Homo sapiens: one gene and its partners. The protein of the gene in region 3 purifies or fractionates together with the protein of the main gene of each other region. This does not show direct contact. Each region holds a gene or a part of one and is shown on either strand. Other genes may lie near its edges. The genes, in order: ITPR3, CDK5RAP2, FGL2 and ZNF282.

Region 1 (7,022 bases), on a different chromosome or scaffold from region 3:
CTGCAGGTACCAGTTCCACCCGTGGCAACGGCCATCACCCCCCTGGCCACCATACCCCGCCCCAGCTGCCATCATCCCCCAGTCGCCATTGTCGCCCCCCAGCCACCATGTCCCCCAGCCACCACACCCTGGTGACTGTGCTGCCATTTCCCTCAGCTCTCCAGGCACAATAAACAGCTGCAGCACCTGCTGAAGCCGGTGAAGCGCATTCAAGAGGAGGAGGCCGAGGGTATCTCTTCCATGGTGGGTGCTGGCCCCGAGACTGGGGTGGGGGTGGGGCCTGGAACCCAGGGAGGACACTTGACCCAAGGGCGTGGCCTGGAACAGAGTGAGGCCCTAGAATATGAGCCAGGCTAGAATTTGGGGGTACAGCTCAGGGGGCTGATTGGGACTGGCAGCCGTGGGTGAAACCCAGACAGAAATGGAAGCAAGGCTCAGGTGGGTCTAGGGTGGGTCTGGAAGCTTCAAGCAGGACCCGGGCTACACTTGGGCAGGACTGAGGAGGCCCCCGCTATCCTCTGGGATTCTCTGGTCATGGCTCTCCCACTCCCCTCCCTTTGGCACCAGGTTCTCAAGGCTCAGTCCTAGTTGGGCTGGGCTTGGCCTGCTCTGGCTTGGCGGGGACACTCGCTGAAGTGTAGTTCAGAGCTAGGCGAAGGCCTGGGAGGGTGGGGGCTGAGTGCCAGCCTGGATGTGGAGGCTGGGGCCTGACCTCCGCGCCCTCCCCACCTCCAGCTCAGCCTCAACAACAAGCAGCTGTCACAGATGCTCAAGTCCTCAGCGCCAGCACAGGAGGAGGAGGAAGACCCCCTGGCCTACTATGAGAACCACACGTCCCAGATCGAGGTGGGCCTGTGGGCAGCAGGGGCGGGCGTGGGAGCCTGCGCCGGGCGTGACCATGTGCTGTGTGTGCTCAGATTGTGCGGCAGGACCGCAGCATGGAGCAGATCGTGTTCCCAGTGCCCGGCATCTGCCAGTTCCTGACGGAGGAAACCAAGCACCGGCTCTTCACCACTACTGAGCAGGACGAGCAGGGCAGCAAAGTGAGCGACTTCTTCGACCAGTCCTCCTTCCTGCACAACGAGATGGAGTGGCAGCGCAAGCTCCGCAGTGAGGACCCACGGGCGGGAGGGTGGGGCGGTCTGGAGCTGTTCACTGATGCCCTGTTATAACGGCCTCCTTTGCCTGCCTGTGGGTGCCCTGCGCCCAACCCCGCCTCACCCCAAGGAAGGGCTCTTCCATGTGTGGCTTCCTCCTGAGCGGGGCCCCACATGCAAGGGGCAGGGGGTGCTCACCAGGGCCCTCCAGCAGCTCACCGTTGCCCTCCTCTTCAGGCATGCCGCTGATCTACTGGTTCTCCCGCCGCATGACCCTGTGGGGCAGCATCTCCTTCAACCTGGCCGTGTTTATCAACATCATCATTGCCTTCTTCTACCCTTACATGGAGGGCGCGTCCACAGGTGAGAACACAGGGCTGGCCGGCAGGTTCCCCGGGCCCTGCCATGCTTCCTCCCTGGGTTGGGGCAGAGCCTTGAGGCCAGCTGGCCTCTGAGGGCACCAGATGCAGAGTGTGCAGAAGCACCCCCTGCGCCATCCTGTGGGCTCTCGCCCCATCATGGAGACACAGGTGCGGTCAAAGGGGATGGTCAGGGTCTTTGACCTCATGGGAGATGGCGCATGCAGGCACGTGCACACGCATAGATGTGTCAGCCAGAAACAAAACCTGGTAGCCGCAGCCGGACAGGGCCTCCCGCTTAGGCCTGAGAGGCAGGTGTAATGGAGGAGGCTAAAACCAGGCACCAGGAACTTAACCGGGAAGGCGGCCAGGAGAAGGTGGCTTTTCGGCACCTGTTGGACCTGCTCTGGGGCCGTGGTGGGCTTGAGGGAGCCCTGCTCACCCTGCCCCTGGCCCCCAGGCGTGCTGGACTCCCCTCTCATCTCATTGCTCTTCTGGATCCTCATCTGCTTCTCCATCGCGGCCCTGTTCACCAAGCGCTACAGCATCCGCCCCCTCATCGTGGCGCTCATCCTGCGCTCCATCTACTATCTGGGCATCGGGCCCACACTCAACATCCTGGGTGCCCTCAATGTGAGTGCCAGAGGGAGCCCCCATTCCCAAACAAGCTCATGCTCACTGTGCATTCAGACGGCAAGCTGGCCTGCTGCTTCCAGGAGCCACTGCTCTGTCCCATCCCCTCCTCTCTGTTGGGCTCCCAAGTTCCTTATAGACCGGTGGCAGGGACTGTTCTGTACCTTCTTCCTTTCCCTCAACACCTGAGGGCAGCTGGCACTCAGAGACAGAAATTCAAGAGTCCCTTTGGAGCAACAGGGTCAGGGTGGCTGTGCACACTGTGCGGGCTGTGCACTGCCCAGAGGCACTGCTACGCGGCAGACGTGAAGATTCATACATAATGACAATCTCCTGACAGATGGAAATAAAGTGCTTTGAGCGAGGAATACCTTTCCCTGATAGAGCCAGTCAGTGGTCTTCTCTGTCCCCATCCTCCGTTGCCTGTACCTCACTGTCTTCCTGGAACTGAGGACCCAAGGGGCTGCCTCTGTATTCTGAGTCCCAGGCGCCTAGATGCGTTTCTGGAAGCAATTTCATTAATGCCATGCCTCCCAGGCTCTGAGCTGGGCACTGGGGGACATGCGTGCAGATTCAGCATAGGTGGTAGGGTGCTGACTCTCATGCCTTGCACTCGCCCCCAGCTGACCAACAAGATCGTGTTTGTGGTGAGCTTCGTGGGCAACCGTGGCACCTTCATCCGGGGCTATAAGGCCATGGTCATGGACATGGAATTCCTCTACCACGTGGGCTACATCCTGACCAGTGTCCTGGGCCTCTTTGCTCATGAGCTGTTCTACAGCATCCTGGTGAGGCCTTCTGGGTGGGCTGGGGCTGGATGGGGGCATGGGGTGGTTGGGGCTTCCCATGAGTTGTTGGCAGTTCCCCGGCACCAGTCTGTCTGTCCAGTCCTTTTGCTGCTGGGCTGGGAGCAGTGAAATTACAGAGTCTTCATCTGCCTGACCCAAGCCTGGCCCTCAAGGCCCTGATGGCCACTCCTGGTGGCCATCTGACCCCTTTCTCCTGTACAGTGGTGGTTCAAGCCTGGACTCTGGAGCTGGACCAGGGCTTTGCATCTCAGCTGGGCTACTACTAGCTGTGTAACTGGGCAAGTTTCTTAACTGCCCCATGCCTCAGTTTCCTCACCTGTAAAATGGGGATAACAACAGCCCCTGCATTCTAAAATAATTGTGAGATGAAATGAGCTAATGCATGGAAAGCACTTACACTGTTTCCTGGCATGCAGCAAGTACATTTTAAGAGTTGGCTGGTATTCAGCCACCCGTTTCACCCCTCGTGCCTTCCCCTGGGCCACTCCCTTTCTGTGACCTTAGAATTCCAGGTTTCTCGAGAAGCTCCCCTGACAGGCCCACCCAGCTTGGATACGACTAAGTGCAGACCTCCCTGGAGGAGCCTTGGGAAACTGTCTGGAGCCCAGGCAGCCCTCAGGGTTCCAGTGGCAGCCCCAGTGAGAGTGGCCGGCCCAGCCCCTCAAGGTGCCATCCCTATCTCAACCCCATCCTGCAGCTCTTTGACCTCATCTACCGCGAGGAGACGCTGTTCAACGTCATCAAGAGTGTGACCCGCAATGGCCGCTCCATCCTGCTGACAGCCCTGCTGGCCCTCATCCTGGTCTACCTCTTCTCCATCGTCGGCTTCCTCTTCCTCAAGGATGACTTCATTCTCGAGGTCGACCGGCTGCCCAACAACCACTCCACAGGTCTTGGAGGCTTCCTCTCCTGGGCAGGTTGTGGGGAATGAGGTTGGGTCTCACAAATGTCTGGCGTCAGGACCAGGACCTGCAGCGCTTACCTCACCAGGCTCCCGTCTGCTTCTCCTCTTGGCTTCTGGGGACGTCTAGCTAACACCAGTCTGCCTCGCTCTTTTCTGGAACACACTGAGTGGGTGGGAGAGCCTTGGGTCTCTGGCCCCTAAGGAACCCCTTGCTTGAGGGCTGGAGTCCCTTGAACTGTCATTCATGTTAAACCCAGTATTTGCAGAAACTGCCCGTGTGCCAGGCCTAGGGGTACAGAGACCCCTCCCTGCCCTTAGTGTGCAACCCAGTCGGGGGCAGAAGCGTGATGACCCTTCACTGTGGCTGGACAGTGGAGGGCTGGCGATCCAGGACCAGGGAAGGTTTCCTGGAGGATGTGACACTGGGGACAGAGCCAGGGGATAAGGCCAGGCACTGGACCTCCTGATGATCTCATCCATATCCCCTCCAGCCAGCCCCCTGGGGATGCCACATGGAGCTGCTGCATTTGTGGACACCTGCAGTGGGGACAAGATGGACTGTGTCTCAGGGCTCTCGGTGCCTGAGGTCCTGGAAGGTGAGGGTGGTGTGTGTGCAGGAGTCTGTGTGGGGTAGGAGGAGCAGGCAGCCCGGGCCTCAGCACACTCTCCGCTTGCAGAGGACAGGGAGCTGGACAGCACAGAGCGGGCCTGTGACACTCTGTTGATGTGCATCGTCACTGTCATGAACCATGGGCTACGCAACGGTGGTGGCGTGGGCGACATTCTCCGCAAGCCCTCCAAAGATGTGAGCACTCCTGCCCACTCCCAAACCTGTGGGGCCCAAGCCACTGTCCAGATCAGCAACTGTGGAGAGTCCTGTCCTTGGCCTCGCGTCAGATATTCAGGGTTGAACCCCCTCCCCCGAACTTGTATCCACTTTTCCCTGCTTTCCACACCTGGCCAATTCCATGATATTACTGCTTAGCTGCCCCCTCACCCTCCCATTCCATAAGGAAAGACTTTGGCAACCAAACTTTGCCCCAGGGCTAGGGATGGTGACCACTGGCTTTCCTAGCCCACAGCAGGTGGGCAGAGGGCGGAGCTGAGTCAGCTTTATCAGGAGGCCTCATGATTTGGCTTGGGCAGCCACATTCCCGAATGTCAGGCCTTCCCCTGTTGCTTGGGAGTGAGAGGCCGCCTCCCTGGCCAGACAGAGGGTTTCTGGAATGTGTGAGGCCAGGCGTCCTGAGGGTGGGCAGAGGTGTTCAGAGCTGCCTCTTTCCCTCATCAATGTTAGGGGCAGAGACACACCGAGACTCGTAGCCCTACCTCCCCGCCAGACTCCTTCTGCAGGCCTCCACCCCGGCGTGTCCTGAGTCCACGCTTTCCTAACCCAAACTCAGGGCTTCTGCTTGCAATTCTTGCTCTGTGGAGCCAGGTTGGGTCCACTCTGCCATCTGATGGCCCCCAGGCCAGAGGCCCTCATTTCCTTCTGCTAGGGGCTGGGTCCTCAATATCACAGCCCTGGCCCCAACCTGAGTCCTATCTTGCCCCAGTGAATGTGGGGACCACCGGGCCCAGCCTCCCTGCCTCATCCCCTGCAGGAGTCTCTCTTCCCAGCCCGAGTGGTCTATGACCTCCTGTTCTTCTTCATCGTCATCATCATTGTGCTGAACCTCATCTTTGGGGTAATCATCGACACCTTCGCTGACCTGCGTAGTGAGAAGCAGAAGAAGGAGGAGATTCTTAAGACGACATGCTTCATCTGTGGTGAGGGCTGCTTCCTGCTCTGTGGAGGCCGCAGCGGGGCTGGAACGTCATCTGATGCCAGTGGCAGTAGCGGTTTGGCCCTTCCTGCCCTGGGGAACCCTGGCCCGGAGCTGATGACTTGATGCATTTGCTCATCCCAGAACTGGGGAGAACATGACCCTGCCTGAACTTGGAGTCAGAAAGGAGTGGGACAGGCCCATCCCTGTAAACCCTTGGGGTTTCTAGGTGAGGACATGAGCCCAGTCAGTGTCTGGAGCTTCTGGTCTCAGTCCAGTGCTTTTCCTACCCCTGAAATGAAGTGCTAGTCCCCTCACCAGCCACCTCGGGCTCAGGCAGGTGTCACCTGTATGGCCTGTAGGACCTCGCTCATTCAGCCATTCGGGCTTCCCCTGAGTTCGAGAAATTCTCGCGTTTACTCCTGGAGTCCTCGGTTGCTGCTGCGGGAGGGCTGCAGCTGCGGCAGGGCAGGATCTCCACTAAGTGGCTGCTGCTTTAAATAGAAGTGACCCAAATAGCCCAGAGCGAGCTGTTGGAAGCGCTCATCCCGAGAACAAATGCCTCCAACCCCCGGAAGCTGGGTCCCCTCCAGCAGGTGACCCTGCAGTGGCTCTTGAAGGCTGATGGTTTCATTCCCGCCCTCTGCACCCTCAGGTCTGGAGAGGGACAAGTTTGATAACAAGACAGTGTCATTTGAGGAACACATCAAGCTGGAGCACAACATGTGGAACTACTTGTACTTCATTGTGCTGGTCCGCGTGAAGAACAAGACCGACTACACGGGCCCTGAGAGCTACGTGGCCCAGATGATCAAGGTGTGAGCAGGGGCTGTGCCAGGCCTGTGGGCCCAAACCAGCCATTCTAGAGTCATCACTGTGCACCAGAGGCCTCATGGTTTTAGCTTCTGAGTACCCTGGGCCCTGGAGAGGAGTGGCCCTATCTGACTGTTGGCCCTAGGAGGCCAGGCAGAGGGGCTCGGACAGCTGCAGACACTTGTTGAAAGGTCAGCAGGGCGAGGAGCAGCAGCTGGAAGCAGCTCTGGGCTGCACGGAAGCCGCTGCTGCAGAGGGGCCTCCTCACACTTCTGGGTGTCAGGAAAAATCCCACAGCAAACCCATGCGCCCCGAAGAACACGTGTGGTATCCCTGGGCCTGTCGTGCAGTGATGCTGAGGAGGGGTGGAGTTGGGGAGACCCTGCCCGTGGCCAGTGATCTGTGGGCCGCTCTCAGGGAGTGTTTTCTAGCTCGGTGGGAAGGCAGGCTGCTTCCTAAAAAGTCTGAATTAGATGATCCTGGGCTGAAGGGGAGCCTGGAAAAACTTTAAAAATCACTTACAGAAATCAAATGTCATCTGTCCAATTTCTGTAATAATGGAGTGAAGGCAATGAATCATAAAGAAGGAATTATTTATCGTTTAGTCTGTATTTCAAACTGATCTTTGTGTACAGGTTTAT
Region 2 (7,022 bases), on a different chromosome or scaffold from region 3:
CCTGCCTCGGCCTCCCGAAGTGCTGGGATTATAGGCATGAGCCACCATGCTGGCTCCTAGCTTGCCATTTGCACTCAATACTGTTTTTATTTTTTGCTGAGACACCAGAGTGCCTCAACTCCAGGTGCTACCTCAAACAGTTGCCCAGGAGACCCTAGGGCCTCTCTCTTCTTGGGAAAAATGGGCACGAATTGATAGAATTCATTTTCTCACTCAGCTTTTTGAGAGCCTGGACTTAAACCATTTCAGACAAGCTGCAGTATATTTATGCTTTTTATGTCCTGTTATGGCAGCTCGATAGATTAATTTTATCTTATAAATTGCATTTTGCCTCCCCAGTGTTTTTATTTTCCCTGTTGTATCTTTGTGTTCTTCTCAGTTGCTTGGCTAAGTTTCAGGTCTTACGGTTTTATTTATTTTTCTTTCTCTTTGTGATTGCCTGTAGCTCAGCCCCCTGTGGGAGCAGCCTACCAGGACAGCCCAGGAGAGCAGAAAGGAATTAAAACCACATCTTCTGTCTGGAGAGACAAGGAAATGGACAGTGATCAGCAAAGAAGCTACGAGATTGGTCAGAATTCAGCCCCTGTGTGTATTGAACAGCTTCCATGTGCCAGGCACCATTTGGATGTTTTATCTAAAAATTATTACTAAGCCCATAGCAGCCCTCTCAGGGCATTATTATCATTCCAGTCTAACACATGGGAAGCTGAGGTTTTAAGAAATAATTGACCCAGGGTCACCCAGCTGGTAAGTAGGAGAAGAGTCAAGGTACAGTAGGATGTCAGAACCCACCCGTCCATGTGTCAGCATGCTTCTCTACCAGGCAGTGGGCTGGGTTCTGGTGGTTCAACATGAAAAGACACAGCCTGCTCTTAGGGACCCCACAGCTCGGAGGAGACAATCATCCCAACAGCCTGTTAGTATTCAGCGCGGGGCTGCCTGTTGCTGAGGTGTGCTTGGTGTTGGTCCGTGTGCCCAGGAGGAGTGGGTCAGAAGAGAGCCTGAGGCTGAGACTGGGTTTGTGGGGTTTGCCAGGCAGATCAGTGGAAAAGGTGCAGAGATACGGGTGAGGGCAGAGGCAAGTTGTATTCCTTTCTTTTTAAAATTATGAAGTATTAGAAGCATACATAAGCACAAAAGATAATATAACAAATACTCATGTTCTCATTCAACCAGAATGAACAAATGCCTACATTCTTTTTATGTTAGATATTTTTCCCCCTTCATTAAAAAAAATCACTATTAATCCAGATCTAATTCACTCTGTTAGAAATAATTGTCCTCAAGAATCCTAAATTTGTCATGGGATGGCCATGGGGACACCAGTCTCTGGAAAAATACTGAGTTGTGGTATATACACTGTTGTATACTTTTGCAAGGTCCAGAGTCACTGCAGTGAACACATGGTCACATGCTTCTGCGTGTTCTGGGCTTTGAGGAGAAAGCTACTCTACCAGGCAATAAAGTCCCCCTTAGCTGAATTGTGGAAAGTTGTAGAACTATAGTATTTCTTATAATGCAAATATTCATAAATGGTCTTGGGGACATCTTTTGATTTCTTCTTGATAGTTATTAATACAGACTTCTTAACTAATCGACAGCTTCCCTTTCCCTGTCAGTACTTCCCTTCATTACTGAATGTCTTTCATTTTTCTGAATGTGCTTCCAGAACTTTGTATGTGAATTGCATCTGCCTGAACTTCCACCTTTTAATTGTTGCGCAGCTGAGGCTGGGTGCTGCGTGTGACATCTTCATTGCTGTTTCTTTTTCACAAGGCCCTTGACAGATACTTGGGATGTGAATAAAGGATTTTACAGGCATCTTGGCCTTCACATTGAGGGTTAAGAACTCTCTCTCTCTTTGCTCATGCACCGCGGTACAGGAGATTGGATTGCAGGAGTGTTACTTCGGGAAGCATCATTCAGAGTGTTAGAGGCAGACTGCCAGGCTTTGAGGAGGGGCTCTACTGCTTACCTACCCTGAACCCTAAGCAAATTCTTAAGCTCCCTAAGCCTCAACTTCCTCTTCTGTAAAATGGGGGTACTAGTGATGCCTCATAATTACTTAAGGAAAGTCCTGGGAACTAATCTTTATTTCCATGAGTGAACACGCTTCTTGCCATGAAGTACAGACCAAATTCTATTATCATGAGGTTATTACAGCAAAGATATTTTCTTGTCTTGGAGGGTGATTCACTGGAAAAAAAGCCTTATGGAGAGATATCTCCCTCCCCAGTTCCTCTTTCTCTTTCTTGTTCAGCCAGAAATACTTGGTGAGTACATTCTCTGTCGCAGACCCTGTGCTAGATACTGGAGAAACAGACATGGATGACACGGTCTGCACCCTCAAGGCTCTTATTGAGTAATTATCATAACATTGTGTATAATAAAAATACTGTATTAGGAATGCTTCCTTTAGGTCAGGTAGCAGCTGCTTTCTGAAATGAAATGCCATACTTTATGGTATTTGCATCATGAACAGATACAAGAGTGTACCTCAAGTCACAAGGAGCAGATTGCAGAACCAGAAATTGGGACATGCAGTCTGATGAGGATTTGTGTGTGAATTTCTTTCTGAGAGATCTCCTAGGTCACCCAGTCCAACCCACGTTGTTGCTTTTGTAGCATTTTTCCAGGCTGGCCTTCGCACGCACGCCTCCGGTGAAGGGCATCTCCTTCTATCTTGGAATGGTTAGAGGATGTTTGTGTTACTTGGATTCCTTCACTACTATGTGCCAGACACTGTGCTAGCCTTTTTTTTCTTTTTGCAGATTTTGTTCCATATAATCCCTAAAAACAAACACACACACACAACTTTTCAGTGATGTTCTTTCCATTTTACAGATAAAGCTACTAAAGCTCAGAGAGGTCAAGTAACTTGCCTATGTGACAGAGCCAGAGTTTGAAACCATGTCTGTTGAATTTCAAAGACAGGTTTTTCTACTACATTCCGCTGCCCCTTAAGTATTCAGACAGCTCTCTATATTGAACGGAACTTTCCCTGGGCAGCCAGCAGTGTGGCACAGTGGTTAAGAACAGAAGCTGCACTACAACCATATGAGACATCTCTTTCTACATTTTAGACACAGGGGAAACTGAGGCTCTTGGATAGTAAAGTCACTTGCCTCAGGCTGTGTGGCCTTCAAACTTCATATTCTTTCTGCTGTACTACTCCACTTCTGAAACAAGTTTGACTGCATCTCTAAGGGTTTAGCTATTACTAGCTATAAGGAAATATTTCCTGGCAGTGTTGTGAGTGAGTGAAACACCTCACTAAAGGGGATGTCAGGGCATCTCCTGGAAGCCATTAGACATGGAAATGAGAAGACTGTCACGTGTTGTGGATATTCAGAATTACCACTCTTTACTGTTGCTTCACAGAATCTCTCAATATTTCTCACACTGGCACTGACTTCTGGTCTGGGTTAGGTTCTGTACTAGACGCCGAGAATGTGAAAATGAAAGGCCACATCTCTGCTGTGAAGAAACGTGCAGTCTGGTGAGGGAGAGCTACATTCAGATGACGAATTGCTATGTGAATCAATAAATAAGCCACTTAAAATTTTTACTTTAGCACCCAGCACATAGTATATTTGTCTTGAGTAATATGCATAAGGTGCTACAGAACCACAGCGAGTTGTGACTTTTGCATAGTTTGGCAGTGGGCTTGCAGAGGAAGGAAAATTAGATCTGGGTATGGAAAGAGTTCATTAGGTAGGAGTAGAATAGAGGGCTGAAGGTGTTCCAGGCAGAGGGCACGGCCCATGCAAAAGCATGGAGGCATGACACAGCACGCAATGTGCAGGGAATCATGGTTAATTTTGTAGGAAATCTCCAGAGTGGTGCCAGAGATATTCCTGGAAAGGTTGCCTGGAACTAGATCATGGAAGGTCTCATGTAGATACTGGGAATGTCGATGAATTTTAGGGGGTGTGTGTGTGGGTTTATCATGGTTAAAATTACTTTTTAGAACAGTCACTCTGAGGAAGAGGACAACTGAGGGGTAAAGAGGGAAAGACTAGGGCTTTTTGAGGGAGGCTTGTTAGGAAAGACTGGAGGCTTTTTGAGGGAAGTGTGTTAGGAAATACTAGGGCCTTTTTGAGGGAGGCTTGTTAGGTCACTGCAGTGGTCTTGGCTTGGCTAGGGCTGTGAGGAAGGAGAGAGGGTTTGGATTTTAGTAAAAGAGATACTGACATAAGTGTATTTGATTTTCAGACTCTGAGATTTGCCCACCTGATGACCTTGCCAGCTTGCCATCATGCAAAGAAAATCCTGAAGATGTTCTGAGCCCAACTTCAGTAGCTACTTACCTGAGTTCCAAGAGTCAGCCTTCTGCTAAAGTCAGTGTGATGGGGACTGATCAGTCAGAGAGCATTAATACCTCAAATGAGACAGAATACTTAAAACAGAAAATCCATGACTTGGAAACTGAGCTGGAAGGCTACCAGAATTTCATATTTCAGCTTCAAAAGCACTCCCAGTGCAGTGAGGCCATAATTACAGTTTTGTGTGGGACAGAAGGGGCCCAGGATGGCTTGAGCAAGCCCAAGAATGGTTCTGATGGGGAAGAAATGACCTTTTCAAGTTTGCACCAAGTGCGATACGTGAAACACGTGAAAATCCTCGGTCCGCTGGCCCCAGAGATGATTGACAGCAGGGTGCTGGAGAACCTCAAACAGCAGCTGGAGGAACAGGAATACAAGCTGCAGAAGGAGCAGAATTTGAACATGCAACTTTTCAGTGAGATCCATAATCTGCAGAATAAGTTCAGAGATCTCTCACCTCCCAGGTACGTTCCACCTCTGCCGTCTCCCCGTTTAAGCCTGTAGTCCCCCAGTATTGCCACTAGGTGGGAGCCCATGAGCTAAAAGAGAACACTACTCTGTGATGGGTAGAGTGTGTTCTGGGGAAGGCTTGATGGTGGGGTTCAGGCAGCCAGGTCCTGTGGAGAAGGGAGAGGTGAGGCCACAAAGAAGAGGAACAGCGACCACGCACTTGAACGTCAGTTACGAGTCTTGGGTCCTCTGGAAATCTGCAGGGCAGATTTCGCCCTCCTCAAGTTGGGGGCTCAGGGTAAAGGTTTCATACCAGTCACTTGGTGAGTGATAGTGCCTTTGCTGAACTGCAGTGTGTACTCCTGGACTCTGTTACTGGCTTTTGCTGTGCTGTGAAACTAAAACTGATGTCTAGGCAAGGTAGGAGGAATATAAATATTTTCCATATCTTTACCCTTTAAGGTCATCTTAGAGAAATAAGCTTGTGTTGAAAGAGAAGAATTCTTAGGTCATGAAGATAATGCTTTATGGGCATAGATATATACGGTTTTGCTTCATGAGATATGGCAAAAATGGGATCATTAGTAAAGTTGACCTTCATTTGTCACTAATTTGAGTCAAACACATTGTTCTGAATTGTCAGGAGCCAGGATGAATTTTTCAAGACTTCCCAAGCAGTGAGATTGAAGGAAGCTTGTAATTATTGAAAGGCTGTTGTCTCAGGCCCCTGGTTAGGCACTTTTCTTATCTAATCCTCAAAATCACCTGAGAAGGAGGTATTCTTAAACTAGTTATTACAGGTAGGGAAACTGAGCCTCAAAGTAGCTGCAGTGACTTGGCAGAGAACATTCACAGAGCTGGTCAGAGCCATTGCCAGGGTTCAAGCCCACATCATCCCACTCCAGTACCCATGTTTACTCATGTTACTCATGAGTTACCCATGTTTACCCATGTTACTCCAGTACTCACATGATACTGGCCCCCACCTTTAATGCTGGTATCATGTAATCTGCATGTGCACACTCTATGTTGAAGGTGACTGCCAGCCCATGTAGTGTTGTCATTTCCAGGAAGGAGAAAATTATGTTGAACTGAAGTGTCAACATCTTTGCCAAGCTACTCTCTGGAGCAAGGTTATTGTGGCCAGTTTACATGAGTCACATTTCCCTTAACCTGTTTACTTCTCAGTGTCTTTCTCTTATGGGCTCACGTAGGAAAAGGTGGCACATGACGGTAAAAAGGTAATATTGCATAATGATCTTCAAAGTGAGAATTGTGTTTGAATCCAAAATCTTTACCACTTAATTAGCTTTGCAGTCAGTTTATTCTTCTGTAAAAGGGGACATTTATACATTTGTTGGAAGACTGAGAGGATCAGATAACATATAAAGCACTGAATTCAGTTACTGACAGGTCCTAGACCCTCAGTAAATGGTAGTTAGCATCATGATTATTCAGTGACGTTTTGTTCGGGAGGAGAGAGTCCTGTCTTTTTTTCTTTGTGGTACACTTTCTTTATCACACTTCATGAGAATTTTTGGTAGATCCTCTGACCCTTGGGGCACTTGTTTCTACAATTCAGAATAGTATTTTTGAAGAGTGTATGGAAACTTATTGTTTGCCTGAGTTCTTGCCAATCTGTACTTTAATTGGGGGCTTTATAAGGTTAAAAATGTTGCAGAAGAATCTTTGTTCCAGCCTTTGTTGGCTGTGTGAAATCAAAGAAGAGCTGACCTTGTACAGTTTCAATTTTTCTAAAAGTATATATACTTGTACAGCTGCAGGCTTTTAAAAATTGTACTCTGTCATTTTTCCAATTAGTGTTAAGGTCACAAAAATTCAATTCTAAAATGGTCCAAGTATTTTCTTTCCCCTCTTTTATCAGATACGATTCATTAGTTCAGTCCCAAGCCAGGGAGCTCTCCCTTCAACGGCAGCAGATTAAGGATGGCCATGGCATCTGTGTCATCTCCCGTCAACACATGAACACCATGATTAAGGCATTTGAGGAGTTGCTGCAGGCCAGTGATGTGGATTACTGTGTGGCCGAGGGTTTCCAGGAACAGCTGAATCAATGTGCTGAGCTGCTGGAGAAATTGGAAAAGCTATTTCTCAACGGTAGGTAGGGTGAGGTACGCGAGTCTTAAGACATCAGTAATTGACCCAGGACTTCTTGGAGGGGCACAGGAGGAGCTAACTCCTTGGCCTTAGTTATCTTTCACCCCTCTGCCTTGATGAGGTGACAGC
Region 3 (7,113 bases):
GAAGTCTGAACATGTGAATATAGACTAATGAAAGTAAAATTTCATATGCGGCTTATAGAAATAAATTTTGCTACTTTAAAATCCCACCATGTATTGGTGTTAAATAATTTGCTTAAATCTAAAAACAAGTCTGTAAGTGAGTGTAATGTGTCAGTGCTGGGTCAAGGACAGATTCAGGGTAGTAAGGAAGATTCTGACACCGCCATGAGGAATAAGCAGCCGATACTAGGAGTCAGGGTAGACTCAGCATGAGAGAATCCAGAAGGGCTTTCAGCAAGAGAGAAGAGGCAGAAGGTCAAGTCATGAGGTGGGAACTCCTAGTAGTGAAGGACAAGTCAGCTCTTCAGGTTTCGATTTTCTGATGGCCTAGTCCTGCTTGAAACCCTCCCTTTTCCTGGTATTCATGACGCTCCTGTACTCTCCTGGTTCTCATCCTATTTCTTTGACCATCTTTTTGATTCCCGTGATTTCAAATTAACATCCACATCTATTCTGTGTCAATATTCATACCTAGATGTGCCACCACTCTTTGCTTGATATTTGCATTTGGTGGCTTGTCAATGCTTAAAACCCAGTGTACTGAAAACAGAAATACTACTACACTCTCCCCAACCTACTGCTACCTCTGTCATTAGCATGCTATCATTTAACTGCAATCAGAGGCAAATTTCAGAGTTGTCCCTCTCTTTCCAGTTCTCACCACTTATCAGATCCCATGGCTTCTATCATGCCTTGGTAATAATGCCTCCATCTCCTTTCCTACCCCTCCTGCCTCCACACTGGTTCACCTCTTATCTAGTGCCTGCTACCACACTACTAGCTCTCACCTAAAATGCCATTTCCCACTGATTTGCAGCAGAAGATTCATTCCTAAAATAGTCCTGGGGGGGGGGGGGGCAAGTATTTTATTTTCCTTGCTCAAAAACCTTTAGTGGCTCTCCATTGATCTAAGCATTGCTTTAAGCACAGGCTCTCCACATAGTTCTCACATACCCTCCCCATGTTATCTTTCCTCCTACGTGGCAATGTGGCAAAGAGAAAAGATATGAACTTTGAATCAGATACAGGTTCAAATTCCAGCTGTCTCTTAAAAACTCTAAAACAGAAACTGAAAACTGTAAAATGACCAGACAAGTCATTTATTGCTTTGAGCCCTTTCTTTGCTCATCTGCAAGTGCAGGGAGGAACCGTAGAGGCGGTACAACACTCTCTGCCCTCCATGAGTTATACACTCATTAGGGGAGTTGAGCCTCTTTTCATGCAGTAGTCACTTAGCATCTGCCTTCCAGTCAGTGGCCAAATGACTTTCTAAACCGAGAACCTAGCAGGTCACCTGTCAGTGTCAATGAAACTGGTCAACAGAGGAGTTCTCTACCCTTATGTCAGGGAATTTTTTATGCATTCTGAAGGGACAGAAGCCAGTTCTCAAAGCACATCCAAGCTTTTTAGGGGAAACTGTGCCATTGGCCCTTGGTTAACTGGGGTGTGACCAGCCAAAAATTAGCAGCAGTGCTTGACACGCACATTTCTGATTCAAACAGATGAACCAAAAGCCCACTGCAAGAGTCCAAAAGCTGTACTTCTGTTAGGTTTAGAAACTTTAAAAAGTACTTAAGATTTCATTTCAAAGTCCAACGTGAAGAAAATACCAGGTCTTTAATGCCCCTTTCTAAGAAGGAAAAAGGGATTTTTGTCTGATTTGTTCACCAGTGTGGCCCAAGTGCCTAGAATAGCGGTTTTGCATGCAGAGGGTGCAGAGTCAATTTATGATGAATAAATATATAGTATATCAATATATGTATGAGGAATAAATGAATGAAAGTGCCTGTGGCACGCATCTTATATATGCTCTAGCATAGTGCTGAGTATACAGAAGATCCTTAATAAATACTTTACTAACTAAATGCAGGGATTTATACTCTAGTCAGTCAAGGACATTTCACAATATCCTTAAGGACTAGGAACTAAATATCATTCCTATATATTTCTACTTTACAAAATGGTTTTTTTTTTTATCTATGTTGTCATCATGTCTCCTTTTTAAAATTATCTATTGTTTCATTTATTTCTTACCTCCCAACAGGGAAGTGTCACAGCTTGAAAATAGGTGAGAAGAAATGAGGTTAGGAGTTAGGGGATTAAATAGATATTTTTAGCTAAAAAGTTTTTGTCTAAAATTGGATATATTGAATGGAATGAAGAGAAAAACAATTTTTGAAAGAGCTATATGAAGATGGAAGAAAAAAAGTCATAAGGTGTGTAGAACATGTTTGACAAATTTATTTGGGAAGAATGTTACATTTATACACTGCATTTTTTTTTTTCTTAAGTGCTCTAAGTTTTTTTTTTCTTTTTTTGTGAGGGGTGGGGCTGGGGGATGGAGTTTCACTCTTATTGCCCAGGCTGGAGTGCAGTGGTACGATCTAGGCTCACTGCAACCTCCACCTCCTGGGTTCAAGTGATTCTCCTGCCTCAGCCTCCCGAGTAGCTGGGATTACAGGCACACGCCACCATACCTGGCTAATTTTTTTTTTTTTTTTTGTATTTTTAGTAGAGATGGGGTTTCACCATGTTGGCCAGGTTGGTCTCAAACTCCTGATCTCAGGTGATCCACATGCCTCGGCCTCCCAATGTGTTGGGATTACAGGCGTGAGCCACCACGCCCAGCCAAGTGCTCCAAGTTTGCATGACTATCATTCCTGTATGAGGGAAGAAATAGCTAAATTCCTCCGCTACAGCTACAGGAACAAAGGCTCATTAAAGCTGATGATCTGTTTACATGATCAGAGGTAGATCTAGGGTTGGAAGCCAGGTCTCCTGAGTATGCGAGAATAAATACAGTCATGGAAGAGTAAAGAGTCTGCCAACATTTTGAGAATGTGAATAGGATTTGGCTAAAATTAAGGGGATATACAGAAAAGTCATAGGAAATCAGGTTAAAGACATAAATATGAGATAGGCTACAGAGTGTTTTAAGTAATACAATAAAACATTTAGATTTTTGCCCATGTCAGTCATTTTGAAATTATTTTTAAAGCAAAAAAACCCTTTTTAAACAAGAAATCTTATGAGATGTCAATATGCAAAACAAATTAAAAGGAGGTGGTTTCTCTAACTGAAGCTGTTCCTCTTTCCTGCCTTCAGCCTCTGAAGAGAAAGTTAGAAAACTATTATCATTAATGCTACATGTTTTGAACAAGCTGATATACCAAGTGGCCCAGAGAGCAGGTAGAAGAACCAGCGTGGAGACAGAAAGCAAGAGGCCCGCCTGCCAGGGCTACCTGCAGAAAGAAAGGGCAAAGATGCTGTAGGCAAGAGAAGTTCAGGACAGACACTGGCATAGCTCAAAGATTCACATTTGAGCAGCTGTGGAAGATGACAGTACAATTACCAAAATGTCGAAGGGCAAAGGAGGCAGCTACTGGTTTTGATGAAAGACAATTATGTCCTTTTAAATGGGTCTTAGACATTTAGACATTAATATACACTATGCTACGGACAAAGGAATAGAAAGTAGCACTTTTTTCTCCACTAGTTTTCTTCTCTTTTTCAAGTAGATGAAGCAAAAGTCAACTGCAATAGTCAGAAAGCTGTACTTTGTTACACTTAGAAACTTCTAAAAGTGCTTAAGATTTCACCTGAAAGTCCAACATGAAGAAAATACAGGCTCCCCAATGCCCCATTCTAAGAAGGAAAAAGGACCATTTTCATTTTAGTAACGTTTCTGTTCTATAGACAGTTTGGATAACTAGCTCTTACTTTTTATCTTTAAAAACTGTTTTTCCAGTGAAGTTACGTATAATTATTTACTTCAAGCGTAAGTATACCAAATTACTTTAGAAATGCAAGACTTTTCTTATACTTCATAAAATACATTATGAAAGTGAATCTTGTTGGCTGTGTACATTTGACTATAATAATTTCAATGCATATTATTTCTATTGAGAGTAAGTTACAGTTTTTGGCAAACTGCGTTTGATGAGGGCTATCTCCTCTTCCTGTGCGTTTCTAAAACTTGTGATGCAAACGCTCCCACCCTTTCCTGGGAACACAGAAAGCCTGACTCAGGCAGCTGCCGCTATTAAAGCAGCTCCAGCCCTGCGCACTCCCTGCTGGGGTGAGCAGCACTGTAAAGATGAAGCTGGCTAACTGGTACTGGCTGAGCTCAGCTGTTCTTGCCACTTACGGTTTTTTGGTTGTGGCAAACAATGAAACAGAGGAAATTAAAGATGAAAGAGCAAAGGATGTCTGCCCAGTGAGACTAGAAAGCAGAGGGAAATGCGAAGAGGCAGGGGAGTGCCCCTACCAGGTAAGCCTGCCCCCCTTGACTATTCAGCTCCCGAAGCAATTCAGCAGGATCGAGGAGGTGTTCAAAGAAGTCCAAAACCTCAAGGAAATCGTAAATAGTCTAAAGAAATCTTGCCAAGACTGCAAGCTGCAGGCTGATGACAACGGAGACCCAGGCAGAAACGGACTGTTGTTACCCAGTACAGGAGCCCCGGGAGAGGTTGGTGATAACAGAGTTAGAGAATTAGAGAGTGAGGTTAACAAGCTGTCCTCTGAGCTAAAGAATGCCAAAGAGGAGATCAATGTACTTCATGGTCGCCTGGAGAAGCTGAATCTTGTAAATATGAACAACATAGAAAATTATGTTGACAGCAAAGTGGCAAATCTAACATTTGTTGTCAATAGTTTGGATGGCAAATGTTCAAAGTGTCCCAGCCAAGAACAAATACAGTCACGTCCAGGTATGTATAATAATGTTTTCTTATCATATGTTCATAAATGTTATACAGCTAGAGAGTATCTATAAACATTAACCTGAGTCAGTAAGTTAAATAGATGACAGATTAAGTCTTTTATTTATCAAGGTGCACAGGAAAAAATAAATATCTTCTCAAATATGACCACATAAATATGACCTAATTACAAAAATCATAGTTAGTTCTGTATCCACTGGAAGTCACTTTCAATTTTAAGATCTTATTTGTTAATGCCAGACCTACTTGCAAGCAGAAGTAGAGAGAATTTCTTGATGTTTTAGTGCATTTAACTTGTCTCTTCAATGAGGTGTTTGAAAACAATAAAGATAAGGCGATGTTCACAATTGTGCCTTGTTTGTTGGAAATCAGTTTTTCTTGTGATTGACTGACTGCCGCTTCTCATGGCTAAAGAGGTCTTTGAAAGATTTTAGCAAGTAATCTAGTTCTTAATCCCAAATATCTGGAGAAAATGGGAGAGTTTACAGATGGAATAAAAGCAGTTTCATATGTGTGCACAAATTTTTGCTTTGAGACCTAGTGGCACAAAAAATATTTTAAGGGGAGAGTTTTAGCATGCCACTAAGGGAAGGTATTCATATTTCTTTCTCTTTTACCTGAAGTTAGAATTCAAGCAGATAGAAGTAGAACCCATCCTCACCATCCAAATTACTTGAATTAACTTTAATAAATACATGTGAAATTCCACAGACTTAATCGCCTACTCCACCCACGAACTAACAGTGGTATTGACTCTCCAAACCTTGGCTTTTCACCTGAGTCACTGGGACCACTGTTGCTGACTGTCTCATACTTTGGAAAGCCATCTCCGCATTTGGACCTCTACTTACCATGAACGTGAGGTTGAAAGGACAGGGCGGAGATCACTTTCATTTAGAGACAGTATCTCAGGCATGCTCCATCCCCAGGGCATCTGCCAGTGAAGGAGGGAAGGGTCATATTTTCAAGGACCTCTATTGGTAATACTCCTGGCAGCCTGCATCTGAATGTACCTGGCACACTGCGAATCCAAGGTTCACCGCTTAGGTGACATCAGTGGGTATACATTAGATTAGATGCTGCATGGCAACTTGTCATGATATGAAGACTATTGTCTATTTTTCTCCTAAACATTTTGGGTGAAATAACTGAATATTCTGAGCTCTAAATATACAGGAATAGATTTTTATGCCTTAGGGTATCTCATATTAAACTTACCTTATTTGTCACACATTTTAATAAAAACTATCTGGGAGTAAATATCTGTCTGATTCATACAGAACTTTGTTAACTGATTATTATGCTTATCCTCAATATAGTCACCTGTTGTTTCTTTCTAGAAACCCAACATGTGAAATAGTGGCTAAATACTTTCCTAGATAATAAATACAGAATAAGAATATTGGTGTGTCATTGAAAAAGATACTTCTTTTTCACTTGAGCTTCTTTATATAGTTGTCAAGTGAAATGAATATGAATTTATGATCAATCCTATGCATTAGGATTTTAACACATCATTTGGAATATATGCTATAAAACCTTCTGACAGTAGAGGCTATCAGCCCCTTTAGGTGAAAGAAAATAGAAGCCTGTGCTTCCTCTGTATGCAAGGAATACAGTTCTAGGAGAGTTAGAATCATCTGATTTTTAGGACCAAGGGATGCAATGATTACGAGAACAAAGCTTTGCTGCCAGCCAGATCTGAGTTAGTGTCCTGGCTCTGCCACTTAAAGCTCAGGTGAAGGTGGGCAAGCCACTGATCTTTATGCCTAAATATCCTCACATGCAGACTGGCAGTAACGCCTACATCATAAGGTCAATGTTCAGATTCAGTGTGAAAATGTTACCCAGTCTGGCAGCATGCCTAGAACGTATAGGTAGGCCTCACTACATAATACTAAATTATTAAAACTGTACTTTTATTATTTTCTTATTGTCGTTTGCTGTTGATGCTGTCATTATTACTACCAACCAAGAGTATATTAGAGGTCCTTTCTGCTTTATAACATTAGGTTCTTCTTGTGAGGCCTTAAGCATTTGCTAAACAGGTTCAAGTAAGTTTAGTAAAGTTTCATTACTGCCATTGATTCAATTATCAAACTGCTTTTGTACATATAAAGAATTCTTCAGATGCATGGTTTCTATTAACAAGATCCAATGCCTTCCTTTTATTTCCCCTTCAGTTCAACATCTAATATATAAAGATTGCTCTGACTACTACGCAATAGGCAAAAGAAGCAGTGAGACCTACAGAGTTACACCTGATCCCAAAAATAGTAGCTTTGAAGTTTACTGTGACATGGAGACCATGGGGGGAGGCTGGACAGTGCTGCAGGCACGTCTCGATGGGAGC
Region 4 (7,935 bases), about 72 Mb from region 3:
GCACAGTGTCCTAAAATGAAGGTGGAAAGCTGTGACCAGGGACATGCCAGTGGTGGAGGAAGCCTGAGAAGCTGAGCTGCCTTCCTTTCCCTATCCCGGTGACCACATTGTACTTCGTAGCCTGCTCATTAAATTAGGTATGGGGCAAAAAACCAAGATAGGAGTGCAAATTTGGTTACCCTCTTCACTTAACTAACAGTGAATCTAGAGGTTTTCTTCCTCAAATAAAGCTTTATTGCAGTTGTTGGAAAGACGCAGAGCACCAGAAATCTTTAGGAAATAGTAGACATAAATGTTCTGGCGTTGATGCATCCCCTCTCCATTGGCCTCTCCTGTATTTTTTTTTTTTGAAGTGAACATAAACTCAAGATTTTATTGTATTCATAATAAAAGATGACACTTAGAACTGGATCACTTGGCCCTTTTTCCGGAAAATCGGCTTAGTTTGCCCACCATAGCCACTCTGCTTCCTGTCATAACGCCGCTTTCCCTGGGCATGCAGAGAATCCTTGCCCTTCTTGTACTGTGTCACTTTATGGGGTTGGTGCTTGCCACACTTCTTACAGAAAGTCCGTCGGGTTTTAGGGACGTTAACCATGCTTGCGTGAGCGCTATCGGCACGGAAAGAAAGAAGCCGCGCCGCAAACGGAAGTATACCTTTTTTTTTTTTTTTTTTTTTTTTTTTTTTGAGATGGAGTCTCACTCTGTCGCCAGGCTGGAGTGCAGTGGTGCGATCTCGGCTCACTGCAAGCTCCGCCTCCCGGGTTCACGCCATTCTCCTGCCTCAGCCTCCCGAGTAGCTGAGACTACAGGCGCCCGCCACCACGCCCGGCTAATTTTTTTGCATTTTTAGTAGAGATGGGGTTTCACCGTGTTAGCCAGGATGGTCTCGATCTCCTGACCTCGTGATCTGCGCACCTCGGCCTCCCAAAGTGCTGGGATTACAGGCGTGAGCCACCGCGCCCGGCCTCTCCTGTATTCTTTAGTTCAGCATCTATCACTTCAAATATCCTGTCCAGAGCAGTAACAATAAAATTCCTAGGGGAGGGGATGAAAAGCAGTCAGTTCCCACCTGAGAGACTGAGGGGCCAGGCCTGGGTCCTTCCCTAACAAGAAACGTGTGTTAACCGTGATACATGGCATTTATAATCCACTTTATCCAGTTGCTCATTCTGCTCCTCGGTACGTTAGATAACTGTCTCCTAGTCACCCAGTGATTTCCGGAAACCAGTCTTATGACTGAACACTTCTCCCAGTGCAGGGTCTCTCCCACTCTTGGGGATCTCTCTGTCTCATCAGTCCGTTGATCATGGGAGGACCTATAACGGGGCCCACAGCCTGTGCAGCTACAGCAGCTTCCTCCTCATTCCCTGCTTGTTTTCCTTCTGGGAAGTTCTCCTTAATCACTCCCTTCACTACCTTCCTGCTGGTATCCACTACGGCCTTTTATGGCCTGTGGTTGCTAGGCTTGGTGGTTATAAAATAATGTTAGTGGCCAGGTGCGGTGGCTCATGCTTGTAATCCCAGCACTTGGGGAGGCCAAGGCGGGTGGATCATGTGAGGTCAAGAGTTTGAGACCAGCCTGGCCAACATGGTGAAACCCCACCTCTACTAAAAATACAAAAATTAGCTGGGCATGGTGGCAAGCGCCTGTAATCCCAGCTACTCGGGAGGCTGAGGCAGGAGAATTGTTTGAACTTGGGAGACGGAGGTTGCAGTGAGCCGAGATTGAGCCACTGCATTCCATCCTGGGTGACAGAGTGAGACTCTGTCTCAAAAATAAATAAAATAAAATATTGCAAGTACAATGAAGCCTGTGCATTTAAATTGTTTGAGTTGAGTAGCTTTGCTCATATATCTCTTTTTTTTTTTTTTTGAGACCGAGTCTTGCTCTGTCGCCAGGCTGGAGTACAGTGGAAGGATCTCGGTTCACTGCAACTTCCACCTCCTGGGCTCAAGCGACTCTTCTGCCTCAGCCTCCAGAGTAGCTGGGACTACAGGCGCACACCACCATGCCTGGCTAAGTTTTGTATTTTTAGTAGAGATGGGGTTTCACCATATTGGCCAGGCTGGTCTCAAACTCTTGACCTCATGATTTGCCCGCCTCGGCTTCCCAAAGTACTGGGATCATCTTAACAATGAATGGGACCTCTAGCTCTGAGCAACTACTCTGGTCACAAAGGGTGATAGTGTTGATGGCTGCATGAAAATCCACCCGCTGTGAAGGAGAAATGTGAAGTAGACACACTACAGCGATGTCTTACTATGTAACAAAGGACATCGTTATAACTAGTTAAGTGCTTAGGAAGGGAAGTCATTTTAAAGGCTTTATACAGAAAAGATAGCATAAATGTTTGGGACTAACCTAGTCCTTCCTTTATCACCTCTAGGAAAGAGAAAAGATAGTTGATAATCTACAGTGCAGAAGACGTGTTCTGAAATGTGGCTCGCTGGTGGAAATGAATTTGCCTAGAGCTTTTCAGACTTAACTTGCCTGGTTCCTCTAATAAAAGTGGACGTGATGTTTACAATCAGGGCCAGGAAGCAGGGAAGGAAATCACTGACTTCTGGGAGCATGGACTTTACTGGCCTATAAGCTCCTTGAGGATAATCTTAAGTCTGTGAATACTCATTTCTGTATCCTAGAAGTGTGCCTAGCAGAGAAAGTACTTGGTAACTGTTCTTCTGAATATGGCCTTCTAAGCACATGTCTCACGTAGGCCAATAATGTCCTTTATTTTATGAAGTGCAGTGGAACTTAAAGGTACTAGCAGGTCTGCTTCCACACAAGGTGATGAGCCTCAGAGATCTCTTCCTTAACAAGACAGGGACTGGTCCTTTAGGAAAACAAAGTAAATACTATTTTGAGAATAATTACAAAAACACCTTTTGGGGGTAACTATCTTTGCAGAATGCTCGCTATGTGCCAGGCACAATTCTCATTTAATTTTACAACATTAAAATAGAGTTGCCATTATTTTCTTCATTTATATATGAAGAGAATGAGGCTCAGAGAAGTTAAATAAGTTGCTCAAAGTCATAGCTAGTGAGTGGTGATTTTGGGATTTAAACTCAGGTGTATGCAACTGCAAAGCTCACCCTCTTCCTAAACAGTACCTGGCACACAGTAGGTGTTCAATAAATACATTTGGAATGACTGAATTTTCCCCTCCTCCATCTTCATCAGCTTATACTGGCCTCTCCCTGGCTCCTCCTCTGACCTGGCCTGATGTTTCAAAGTGACACTGACCTGCCTTTAAAGGGTTTTATTTGTAGAGAAGGGATCTCGCTGTGTCACCCAGGCTGGTCTTGAACTCCTGGCCTCAGCCTTGGCCTCCAAAGTGTTGGGATTACAGGTGTGAGCCACCATGACTGCCCGATTTAAAGGTTTATTTATTTATTTATTTGACACAGGATCTTTGCTATGCCGCCCAAGCTGGAGCACAACGGCACAATCACAGCTCACTGCAACCTCCAACTCCTGAGTTCAAGCAATCCTACAGCCTTAGCCTCCTGAGTAACTAGGAGTACAGGCATTAGCCATCATGCCCGGGTAATTTTTATTTTTTATTTTATTATTATTATTATTATTTTTTTTTGAGACGGAGTCTTGCTCTGTTGCCCAGGCTAGAGTGCAGTGGCGCGATCTCGGCTCACTGCAAGCTCCGCCTCCCGGGTTCACGCCATTCTCCTGCCTCAGCCTCCCGAGTAGCTGGGACTACAGGCGCCGCCACCACACCCGGCTAATTTTTTTGTATTTTTAGTAGAGACGGGGTTTCACCGTGTTAGCCAGGATGGTCTCGATCTCCTGACCTCGTGATCCGCCCGTCTTGGCCTCCCAAAGTGCTGGGATTACAGGCGTGAGCCACGGCGCCCGGCCTTATTATTATTTTTTGAGATGGAGTCTCGCTCTGTTGCCCAGGCTGGAGCGCACTGGCGCGATCTTGGCTCACTGCAACCTCCGCTTCGGAGGTTGAAGCGATTCTCCTGCCTCAGCCTCCCGAGTAGCTAGGATTATAGGCCCACGCCACCACGCCCGGCTAATCTTTTTGTATTTTTAGTAGAGACGGGGTTTCACCATGTTGGCCAGGCTGGTCTCGAACTCCTGACCTCAGGTGATCCGCCTGCCTCAGCCTCCCAATGTGCTGGGATTACAGATGTGAGCCACCGCGCTCGGCTAATTTTTATTTTTTATAGGGATGGGGTGTCAATATGTTGCTCAGTCTGGTCTCGAACTCCTGGGCTCAAGTCGTTCTCCTGCTTCAGCCTCTCAGAGTGCTGAGATTACAGGTGTGAGGCACCACGCCCAACCCAATTTCAAGGTGTTTGAAGAGGCCACTGTTAAAATGCACTGCACCTTACCTGGGAGAAAGAGCTCAGCCCTCTTTTGACACCTTAACATGAATCACTTCTCTATCATCCATAACAGTGCAAAAGCTCTGGGATGGGTCCAGGTAAATCTGGATTGGGAAGAAGGGGAGTGGGAGGTAAAGTCTGCAAAGGAGTGAGGGAAGGCAGAAGGCCAGAAGAAAGTGTCTGAAGACAGAATTACTCCTGCAAAATTTTCACAAGGGTCAGGCACTATTTTCTCCCGGGATGCCCAATACATTTGCAGAATTAACAGTAATCAAGCCCACAGTCCAGGTCCTCGCATAGTTTGGGCCTTTAAAGTCGGCCATCCCAGATTGAGGGGGCCTGACCCCTGGGCGAGGCCGCCGCCTCTCAGTTTTGGGGCGGTGGCGACCCCAGTCCGGGAGTGGCCCCGGTAGGTCCCCGCAGGCGGGCAGGAGCTCCGAGGCCATTGGCTGGCGCGCGGGCTGCCAAGGGGCGGGGAGCGCCGCCGAAGGGGACTGTTTGCTCCTACGGGCTGTAGATGGAGCTGTCCGGCCCCGGAGAGGGGGAAGGCGCCTGGAAAACGTTCTTCTTCTCCCTGGCCGACCCGAGCGGGGAACAGCACTCCCAGGATGCAGTTTGTGTCAACACGGCCGCAGCCTCAGCAGCTGGGCATCCAGGGCCTGGGGCTGGACAGCGGGAGCTGGAGCTGGGCCCAGGCTCTGCCCCCGGAGGAGGTCTGCCACCAGGAGCCGGCGCTGCGCGGGGAAATGGCCGAGGGAATGCCGCCCATGCAGGTGGGAGAACCCCGCCGGCGCCATGGCCGCGCTGCCGTGGGGGCGGGGCGCGGGCTGGGCCGCGGGACCGGGCCGCGCCGTCCTCCGGTAGCCTTGCGGCGCCCTCCCAGCTTCCGCGCCCAGGCGAGGCCCGAGGCGGGCGGGGCACGGCCGGGCTGCGCGGCGGGCAGGACGGAGCGGGCCCGACGCAGGCCCGGAAGGGCAGGCCTGGCCCGCGCGGCGCGGAGCAGCGGTCGCCGGGCCCAAGTGCGGAGGCCCCGCGGGGCGGGGGCCGGGACCGTCCTTTCCGGGACCTGGCAGAGCTCTGACCCTGTGGCTGAGCCCCGGCTTGGGGCTCCCTTTGCGCCCGGCCGGCGGAGAGCTTCGCGGGCAGTGCTTCCGCCCGGCCGCAGAAGTGAATGCCTCGTTCGTGTTTACACGGTGGCCAATTTGACGGGGATATTTTTTAAATGTTTGATTACCACCTTTCACCAAGTGTAATGAGTAATTCACTCTCCCCCTGCACCGGGTGTGATCCAGGGAGGGGGCCATGGAGAGATGACTTCGGGGTCTTTCCTGCGGTTGACAAACTTGGCCGCATGTTGGAATGGCCTGGGCAGCTTTTAAGACTCCTGAGCCCTTGCCTGGTCCCAGAGCTCAGGGTCTCTGACGGGTGAGAGTAGCACCAGGCATTTCTTCAGGCTCCATCGATGATCTCCGTGGGCAGAACCGGTGCTCCAGAATTGGGTATAAAACCAGGGGAGGTGGATCCTCAGAGAGGCCTGAAAGCTTGCCCAGGGAAGACTCTCTGGGCCCACCCTGGGGCTGGGCTGCTCAGGGGCCCCTCTGCTCACCACGCGGCTCTCAGCCAGGTGCTAACGAGGGAGCCAGGGGCTGCTGTGTTGTGTTTGATCATTTTCAGGGTTAGGGCTTCAAACCCGAGAAAACTAAACTGGGCCCCGGGACTTTCTTAACTTCTACTGTGGACTCTGTCCCCTTCTGTGGGCTAGGGCGGAGTGGAGCCTCTGTGATGGAGGAATGGGTGCTTTTGATGGAAACACCAGCACCTCTTACTGGTATTACAGGGCCTGGCGATCCTAGGGCCCTGCTCTCCACTCTGCTGTGTCCCGGAGCAGGTCTGCCCCGGAGCAGGGCTGCTCTTGAGTCAGAGAGTGGGGCTGGTCTGCCCAGATCGCCCCAAGCAGCAGGCCTCCCCTTTTCCTAGCCTGAGGGCCTTTTCTGCAGCCATCGGGAGGACAGAAAATGACACCTCTTCCTGTCCCAGGTGTGAAGGAGAGTCGGCTGCCAGCCCATGTGGTCCAGTGAGCCCTGAGTCTGACACCAGGTCCCAGATGACCAGTGAACTGTCACCAGCCTCAACCAGCCCCCCTTAGCCATAGGTCTCAGCTCTCAATTGCACCAATTAGTTTACCCTTCTGGGGTGAGGGCTCTGTGCTGGAAGATAAAAGGGGGAGTCCCCAGGCCATGGGGCACCCCTTCCCCAGGAAGCAAGGAGGGGTCCCAGAGGAGTTTTTCTTTCTCTTGGTCCTCTTGGGTGTGAGGGACATCCCCTCTTCACCTCTAATGAGTGACCTTTTTTAGTGAACCTATTTTCAATTTGGAAAATGTTTATGAAACAGTAGTTGTATATGGGGGGAAGCTGCTTTTCTGCCCTAGCTTGGGCTCTCCGGTCTTTTCCTTGACTGCAGCCCTGGTAGGAATGTGGTGGGTTTTTTTGTTGTTTATTTGTTTGTTCCGAGACGGAGTCTTGCTCTGTTGCCCAGGCTGGAGTGCAGTGGCACCATCTCGGCTCACTGCAACCTCCGCTTCCCAGGTTCAAGCGATTCTCCTGCCTCAGCCTCCCAAGTAGCTGGGATTACAGGAGCCCACCACCACACCCGGCTAATTTTTGTGTTTTTAGTAGAGACAGGGTTTCGCCATGTTGGCCAGGCTGGTCTTGAACTCCTGACCTCAAGTGAGCTGCCTGCCTTGGCCTCCCAAAGTGCTGGGAAGGTGTGAGCCACTGCACCTGGCCAGGAATGTGTTTTTTGTTACCTGCAGCATCTAGAGCTGCCCCAGCTGGCAGTGCAGGGAGGCGCTGCGGAGTGACCAGCTGCCTCCCTGTGCTTCAGTTTCATCATCTTTAAGGCAGAGATCATCATTCTTGCCCTAACCTGCTGAGAGATTGCTGGGAAGATTAGCGTCAGCTAACTTACATCAAAGTTCTTGGAAACATAAAACACTAGGCAAATACAAAGTTCGTCATTAAGGCTAGCCCTTGAAGAAATCAGTTGGTCTATTCAAAGAAAGTGGCCTGTGACATTTTAGGCAGGGGTTGCAGCCTTAACTTGCTAAGGGTCAATGTGGGTGAACCAGTGACCAGCCTGACTCACCTAGGCAGGAGATGGGAGAGTGTTGAGTTGGGTGGGTGGGTGAGTGGGTAGCTGTTGCTGGGGGTGTTAGTGTATCCTGAGTTACGGGGGCCTGGCAGAAGAAAGACGACATGTAGCATCTGATTAGTTGACCCCTGTTCCCAGCTGACTTCCCCGGCTCACACAAGGTCTCATCCTGGGTTGTCGCTTTCTCCCTCTGCATACAGGCTCAAGAATGGGACATGGACGCCCGGCGGCCAATGCCTTTTCAGTTCCCACCCTTTCCAGATAGGGCACCTGTCTTCCCCGACCGCATGATGCGAGAGCCCCAGTTGCCCACAGCAGAGATCTCACTCTGGACTGTGGTGGCTGCCATTCAGGCTGTGGAGAGGAAGGTGGATGCCCAGGCCAGCCAGCTGCTGAACCTGGAGGGGCGCACGGGGACAGCCGAGAAG

Evidence for each region.
Region 1: the proteins of FGL2 (region 3) and ITPR3 purify together in Homo sapiens (affinity purification with mass spectrometry; 3 studies listed by BioGRID and IntAct, with this or other methods). This does not show direct contact.
Region 2: the proteins of FGL2 (region 3) and CDK5RAP2 purify together in Homo sapiens (affinity purification with mass spectrometry; 3 studies listed by BioGRID and IntAct, with this or other methods). This does not show direct contact.
Region 4: the proteins of FGL2 (region 3) and ZNF282 purify together in Homo sapiens (affinity purification with mass spectrometry; 3 studies listed by BioGRID and IntAct, with this or other methods). This does not show direct contact.

Annotation. Positions count from the first base shown.
Region 1 is NC_000006.12:33,687,322-33,694,343, forward strand, and holds part of ITPR3 (inositol 1,4,5-trisphosphate-gated calcium channel ITPR3), read left to right. Parts: coding exon 1-6; intron 7-156; coding exon 157-243; intron 244-735; coding exon 736-846; intron 847-917; coding exon 918-1,110; intron 1,111-1,334; coding exon 1,335-1,460; intron 1,461-1,916; coding exon 1,917-2,089; intron 2,090-2,712; coding exon 2,713-2,877; intron 2,878-3,595; coding exon 3,596-3,788; intron 3,789-4,293; coding exon 4,294-4,398; intron 4,399-4,479; coding exon 4,480-4,607; intron 4,608-5,406; coding exon 5,407-5,572; intron 5,573-6,223; coding exon 6,224-6,384; intron 6,385-7,022.
Region 2 is NC_000009.12:120,437,166-120,444,187, reverse strand, and holds part of CDK5RAP2 (CDK5 regulatory subunit-associated protein 2), read left to right. Parts: intron 1-445; coding exon 446-568; intron 569-4,215; coding exon 4,216-4,789; intron 4,790-6,660; coding exon 6,661-6,893; intron 6,894-7,022. UniProt on the Homo sapiens protein: Potential regulator of CDK5 activity via its interaction with CDK5R1. Negative regulator of centriole disengagement (licensing) which maintains centriole engagement and cohesion. Involved in regulation of mitotic spindle orientation.
Region 3 is NC_000007.14:77,196,816-77,203,928, reverse strand, and holds the start of FGL2 (fibroleukin precursor), read left to right. Parts: upstream 1-4,109; 5' UTR 4,110-4,135; coding exon 4,136-4,748; intron 4,749-5,611; coding exon of another isoform or gene 5,612-5,614; exon of another isoform or gene 5,615-5,694; intron 5,695-6,943; coding exon 6,944-7,113. UniProt on the Homo sapiens protein: May play a role in physiologic lymphocyte functions at mucosal sites.
Region 4 is NC_000007.14:149,190,626-149,198,560, forward strand, and holds the start of ZNF282 (zinc finger protein 282), read left to right. Parts: upstream 1-4,920; 5' UTR 4,921-4,964; coding exon 4,965-5,129; intron 5,130-7,707; coding exon 7,708-7,935.